2 linked regions of the Homo sapiens genome follow. The protein of the gene in region 2 interacts with the protein of the main gene of each other region in a pairwise test. Each region holds a gene or a part of one and is shown on either strand. Other genes may lie near its edges.

Region 1 (3,500 bases), on a different chromosome or scaffold from region 2:
TTCCAAATCAGTGGTATTTAGGAAGTGGTATTTTCTTTTATATAAAATAAGGCAGCCTGAATGTTAGTCAAATTAATTTTTTTATGAAGCCTGCATTATCTTTTCATTTATTACATTCTTTAAGGTGTTAACTATATATACATACACACATACATACAAATATATTCATATATATTTATATATAAATAATATATATATATATATATTTTTTTTTTTTAATTTAAAGGCTTTTAGTCCTGATGGTCGTTGGTTAATAAGTGCTGCGATGGATTGCTCTATTAGGACTTGGGACCTTCCTTCTGGGTGGTAAGTTTATATTTCTAATTCCCTAACCTCTATAAGATTTCTAAGTTATTTTTTTCACATGTGACTTTTACCGATAGTTAATGGGTTATATGCTTTTTCAATGTGACTATATTTGGAGATTTTTCTGACATGACTATATTGTATCCTTGGAGTGTTTTTGATAACTAAACAGCAGGTAGTAGTGTCATGAAACATAATAGAAAAATGAAATCTCTCTTAGGTTTTCTCATCCTGCAAAATTGAGATACAGAAGCGAGATGCCTAAACCTTAAGAAAGCTCATTTGACCTTTTTGATACTCCAAAATAAAGCTCAGACTTAAGGATGGCAAACTTTTGAGTTTTTTTAGTTCATGCTGAATTTAGTTAAAAGGTCAAACCCCCTAACTTTTCCTTTTTGTATGTCTCTTCTGCTTCTCTGACATAATTCTTAAAAGAAGGCATTTTAGATAGTCTTAGTGCATTTTCTGTTGCTTATAACAGAATATTGAAACTTGGTTATTTCTAAAGAAAAGGAGTTTATTTCTTACACTTTGGGGGATTGAGAAGCCCCAGGTCAAAGGGCCATATCTGGTGAGAGCCTTCTTGCTGGTGGAGACTCTGAAGAGTCCCAAGGTGGTATGGAGAATCACAGAGTAAGGGGACTGAGCGTGATAATGTAATAGCTTGAGTCTGTCTTTCTCTTCTTATAAAGCCACCAGTTTCCCTTTCATGATAATCCCTTAATCCATGAATGGGTTAATCCATTAATGAGGACAGAGTCCTCATGATCCAATCACCTCTTAAAGGCACTCCCTCTCAATACCATCACATTGGGGATTAAGTTTAAACATGAGTTTTGGAGGGGACATTCTAACTATATCTTAAAGTGGTGAAAATGTGTGTCTTCGGATTTGGTTAAAACGTAACAAATGTTCAGAAATCTGTTTCATGGGTTGAAATTTGCTGCTAATCCAGGGCTTTAAAGAGAAAGTGGTATGAACAGAGGAGACATACAGAATGTGTCGGCTTTGTTGTTAAAAATTAAGTAGGTATAGATACCATTTAAAATCATCTCATTTAACATAGGATTGCTTAGATGAGTATGAAGAAAGGAAGAATTGTGGGAATAGCAAAACATCTAATTTAACAGTAACATACCATTAGAGAAAGATAGGTGAGAAAAATGAGAAGGAAGGTGGTACTTTTTAATCTAAAATATTCCCAAATTAAGCTCTGTTCACTTCCTCTTCCTACTCAGGAATTGGATAAGCTCATACATGAAAACAGTTTGACCTTTAGGAAGGAAAAACCCTGATGTCCTCAGTTCCCTTCGAGTTCGAAACAGGCCTGAGGCATACCTACCCATCTTGCATATACACTGGATTTGTAGTAAGCACAGCTAACGATTGTCACTAGTGGGTCCAGCTCTAATAATCAGGGACCTTTGTCCACAGGTTTGTCTCTTTCACTTAAAATAGAGTGAAGCAAAATCGAATTTATTGACTGTATCCTCCTCAGGCTTCAGAAAGTTCACTTAAAGTTGGTATTTCTTCAATTAAAAAAACATTTTGTTAAAGACACTATTAGAAATATTAGTGGTCTGTCACTTCTTGGGCTGTTGCTATTTTCTAAAAGTTAATGTTATATAATTTGAATTGCTTTAAAATAAGAAAGTTGTATAAATAGTAGAGTTGGCATAGTGCCTTTTTCATTTTCCTGTTTAATAGTTTTAGTTTATATTAGTGAGAGAGATAGATTATTCAGTAGTAGTAAATTGGCAATGTATTATAAGTGGTAAATTCGTCTTTGGAATGAAAAAATTAGGATCTGAAAGTAGCATTCAAAGCCACTAACCTTTGACTCAGCATTAGCCTTTTGCTGAATTTCTTATATCAGTAAGAAGTTGAACAGATTCAAATCTGATAGATTTTCAGCTCTAGTATCTTTATTTTTAGGTGAACAGGCAATTTTAAGTGAATAGAGAGGCATGAAGCTGGGTGTAGCACAAGAGCAAGAAGTGACCACATCGAATTGTTAAAAGAAAATGTAATAAAATGTACATTGATTGAAGAAAAGTATATTTTTATTAAAGAAAAAAGTTTTGGTTAAAATTTGAAGTGGACCAAATGAGAGAGCTTGAATAACTATCCAACAACTGCTGCTGCTTAATTGCAACTAAGCTAAGATTTACAATGTGCTGCTAGGCACTGTTTATGCTTTTATTTTTCATATCCTAACAAGTTGTAGGTACTATTACTGTTATTAGTCCCATTTCAAAAATGAGGAAGTGGAGGCTATTAGAGAAATTAAGTGATTTGCCCAAGGTGACTTAGTTTATAAATGACAGAGCGCAAAATCAGCACAGGAGAAAGAAATAGCTTTCTTAACACTTATGTTATCATCTTTGCTCAGACTGTGTCTTGTTTTAAGTATGAACTGATTTGCTTGGAAAAAAAAAACATAATTAGTATGACAACCTTTGGAAATTCCTAGTTCTTCTTTCAATTAAATAATTTGAATAATGAAAACAAATTACATAGCCTGGAAAGTGAAGCTATCTATGAGTAAACCCTTGAGTGTATTAACATACAGGTATATCCATCTGGAATTGTGCCTATCTGAAACAAATTGCATGGGTATTAAAGTTTCCTGTAAAGTTTTTTTAAAGTGGTGAAACATTTTTTATGTTTGTAAAATTTTCAGAGGAGCAAAGTTGAAATTTTTTATCTAAAATTATCATTCCTCTGCCACTACCACCACCTTTTATGTCTGGTTGTTTTTGATCTAATAGAAATTCAGATTGAATTCTTTCTTATTTTTTTTTTCTGAGACCAAGTCTTGCTCTGTCGCCCAGGCTAGAGTACAGTGGTACGATCTCGGCTCAGTGCAACCACCGTCTCCCAGGTTCAAGCAATTCTCCTGCCTCAGCTTCCCGAGCAGCTGGGACCACAGGCGTGTGCCACCATGCCTGGCTAATTTTTTTTTTTTGTATTTTTAATGGAGCTGGGGTTTCACCATGTGGCCAGGCTGATCTCAAACTCCTGACCTCAAGTGATCCACCCACCTCAGCCTCCCAAAGTGCTGGGATTACAGCCATGAGCCACGGTGCCCAGCCAGATTGAGTTCTTTGAGGGGTGAGAAATATATAAAATTAAATAATCTTAATAGAATTTTTCATTTGTTCTGTCTCACCCCACCCCTACTTCCTGAGGAG
Region 2 (3,500 bases):
ACCATGTGATAACTTAAGCTTTTTTCGAAGCTCTGATTTTTTTTTGGCAGTCTTAGTGATGTGTTGAGAAGGTGACTATCCTGCTCAAAGGTGTTGCCTTCCTTTTCCCCGTGTTTGCCAAGTGCGTAGGCCTGTTTTTCGAATCAGAGATGCATTTAAAGTGTAGTTTGGAAAATGAGATCCTCAACAGTGATGTTGTGGATATTAGCATCTGTTGCCATTGCATGTAATAACCAAATCTTTATTTCAGAAATACAAAATAGCCTTGATTCAGATGTACCAGTGTAGCCATGAGAAAGTGATTTGATTTTCTGACATCAAATTTGTTTCTCCATAGAAATGTAATTGGGAATATTAAAAATAATTTAAGTACAGGGCAACAATTTCATTTCATCAGGGGACTGGCATACCATAGACCCACATTTTTTTTTTTTTTTTTTGTTTTGAGACGGAGTCTTGCTCTGTCGCCCAGGCTGGAGTGCAGTGGCGTGATCTCTGCTCACTGCAAGCTCCGCCTCCCAGGTTCAAGCCGTTCTCCTGCCTCAGCCTCCCCAGTAGCTGGGACTACAGGCACCCGCCACCACACCTGGCTAATTTTTTTGTATTTTTAGTAGAGATGGGGTTTCACTGTGTTAGCCAGGATGGTCTCGATCTCCTGACATTGTGATCCGCCCACCTCAGCCTCCCAAAGTGCTGGGATTACAGGCGTGATAGACCCACATTTTTTTACATTATAACATTTCTTACATTAGGTTGTGTCTTATTACTGATATATATGTTTTTTTTGAGACAGAGTTTTGCTCTTATTGCTCAGGCTGGAGTGCAATGGCACAATCTCAGCTCACCGCATCCTCTGCCTCCTGGGCTCAAGCCATTCTCCTGCCTCAGCCTCCCGACTAGCTGGGATTACAGGCATGTGCCACCATGTCCGGCTAATTTTGTATTTTTAGTAGAGACGGGGTTTCTCCATGTTGGTCAGGCTGGTCTCAAACTCCTGACCTCAGGTGATCCGCCCGCCTCATTTTTTCTTTTTTACCAGTAATTAATAGTACTTCTTAAAAATCAATGGTGTTTTATATTTGATGAAATATGGTACTTACAGCTTATTAAACTTCACTCGTAAGTCAATATTAAATGAATATATAATTTAACATTTGAATAGTGGGTTGTTTGGAGTTTAGGGGTAAGTGGCTGCTAGCTACTCTGCTGTATTATAAGGTCCTGTAGGTGTAGACTGCAGTAGCCTGTGTCTTACATATGCATAATACATATGGTTAATAAGTGTACATTTGTTAAATTCATGAGTACGTGCACGAATAAATGTTTACCAGGGACACAGTTTGAGAGGTGAGTTGAAGGAGTATTGAGTATTTCATGAATAGAGCCTTGGGTTATTGGTTAGGAGCATGGTACTGGTCATACAAGGCCCATGGTTTGAGTCTCTCCTGGGCAGGTGCTCTTTGACCATAGATTGCATCATTCATCCCACCAGCCATTTTATAAATGATGTGTTACTATCTGTGGTAAAGAGGACCAGTATGTGGCTGACAGGTACAAATCTATCACCCCTGTTGAAAACACATCTCTCTCAGATTACTCAGCCTCTTTCCTTCATTGTCTTTATTACAGTTTGTACTGTTGGTAGTTTTGTTTTTTTTTGTGCAATGTTTAGCTCTTTTACAGGGCAGGAAACTTCATGTGGGTAGGGCCTGAGCCTGTCTTGTTCACCTGTGAATCCCTAGCACCTGACAGATAGCCTGTCACAGTCAACATCTCAAAGCAGTTTGGTCTGCTCATTCTGCATCGGTAATAATAACGCTAATAAAAAGCTCTTAGGGATATAACACTTGCTGTATCTGTTTTAAATGCTTTATATATTACTAACTCATTTAATTCTCACATCAGCCTATGAAGGAGATACTATTATTGTCCGTGTTTTACAGTGAGGGCTGCGCCTTTACAAATGTATTATATGTTAAAAACTTAGAGGTATATTTGTGCATACTGCACATTATATGCAGACATGGATTAGTATGTTTATAAATAAACATATAAGATGTACACAAGGACATGTAGAAAACATTTTTGGCTAGACTTATTTGATTTTAAAATATGAACTATTTTTTCTCTCTTTTTAGGGATAGATTTGCCTTTGTGTTCATGTAGGGTTGTAAACCCAGTTTTGGGAGTGTACCAGAGACTGTGCTACCTGGTGCCAATTTAAGGAGTAATTTCATATTAATATCACAGCCTCCCAGGGGCAGCTGTTATTCCACTTCTAGATGGGAAGACTAAGGCTAAGGGAGATCAAAAGGTATGCTCTGGGTTACATGGCTGCTGGAAGGCAGAGCATAAACTCAAGACCAGGCCTGTCTGATTCCTGCGATGATGTTCTCAGCTGCTCCTGGGACGCAGTCCCAAGGTTAAGCTGGACAATTTCTAAGAATCTGGAAAGAAGGAGGTGGCCTAGGATGTGGCAACTACAGCATTCGCCATCAGAAATTTTTCCTGGTGGCCAACCTCACCTTTCCTGCTCTAATATTTAATTTAAAATACTTATTTTCGGCTGGGCATGGTGGCTCCTGCCTGTAATCCCAGCACTTTGGGAGGCCAAGGCAGGCGGATCACTTGAGGTCAGGAGTTTGAGACCAGCCTGGCCAACATGGTGAAACCCCGTCTCTACTAAAAGTACAAAAAAATTAGCTGGGTGTAGTGATGTGGGCCTATAGTCCCAGATACTCAGGAGGCTGAGGCAGGAGAATTGCTTGAACCCGAGAGGTGGAGGTTGCAGTGAGCCGGGATCGTGCCACTGCACTCCAGCCTGGGCTGCAGAGTAAAACAACGTCTCAAAAAAAATAATAATAATACTTATTTTCTTCTTATTAGTAAAGCTAGGCATCTCATCATATATGGATTTGCAGTTTGTCATCCATTGTGTTTCTTGTTCATGGCCTTTATCAGTTTTTCTCTTAGGCTTTGGGCTCCACTTTTTGTTGGCTCTTCATGTTGCTCACGTTAATTCCTTGTCTGTTAAATGTTAGGAAAACACTCCCCTGGTCTGTCATTGCCTTTAACTCTGCCTATGGTGTGTTTCACTCTGTCTGAATGCTTGCTTTTTTCATGTAGGTAAAGATTCAATTTGTATTATTGCTTTTGGGTTTTATTTATTTAAAAAAATGTCAGCATGGCGTTTGTACTAGATTAATGTAGCTTTGGGGACCGCCAGAAGCATTTTAGGGCCGAACTTCCATGCAGTCTCTATATGAATTTTAGGGAAACCTATGATCTTTATATGTACAAAAATAGATATAGGGTTCTTTTCCCTCTTTGCTGATACGTGGGAGTTCAAGATTGACTTTTTCCAACTCACCGAAAAAGAGACGAACCTTATGGTGTTTAGCTTGGTAGAAGTGTTTCTTTTGGAGACCCTGTTTCTTGTCCTGGAATTCAGTGAAATGTTTCCCATAGACCTACTGTGTGTAAGGCACTGACCATATACC

Evidence for each region. The genes of interacting proteins can lie anywhere in the genome.
Region 1: the proteins of SUCLG1 (region 2) and WDR36 interact in a two-hybrid assay, tested with the Homo sapiens proteins (one large-scale study listed by BioGRID).

What each region holds. Positions count from the first base shown.
Region 1 is NC_000005.10:111,112,848-111,116,347, forward strand, and holds part of WDR36 (WD repeat-containing protein 36), read left to right. Parts: intron 1-226; coding exon 227-306; intron 307-3,500. UniProt on the Homo sapiens protein: Part of the small subunit (SSU) processome, first precursor of the small eukaryotic ribosomal subunit.
Region 2 is NC_000002.12:84,452,781-84,456,280, reverse strand, and holds part of SUCLG1 (succinate--CoA ligase [ADP/GDP-forming] subunit alpha, mitochondrial precursor), read left to right. Parts: intron 1-3,500. UniProt on the Homo sapiens protein: Succinyl-CoA synthetase functions in the citric acid cycle (TCA), coupling the hydrolysis of succinyl-CoA to the synthesis of either ATP or GTP and thus represents the only step of substrate-level phosphorylation in the TCA.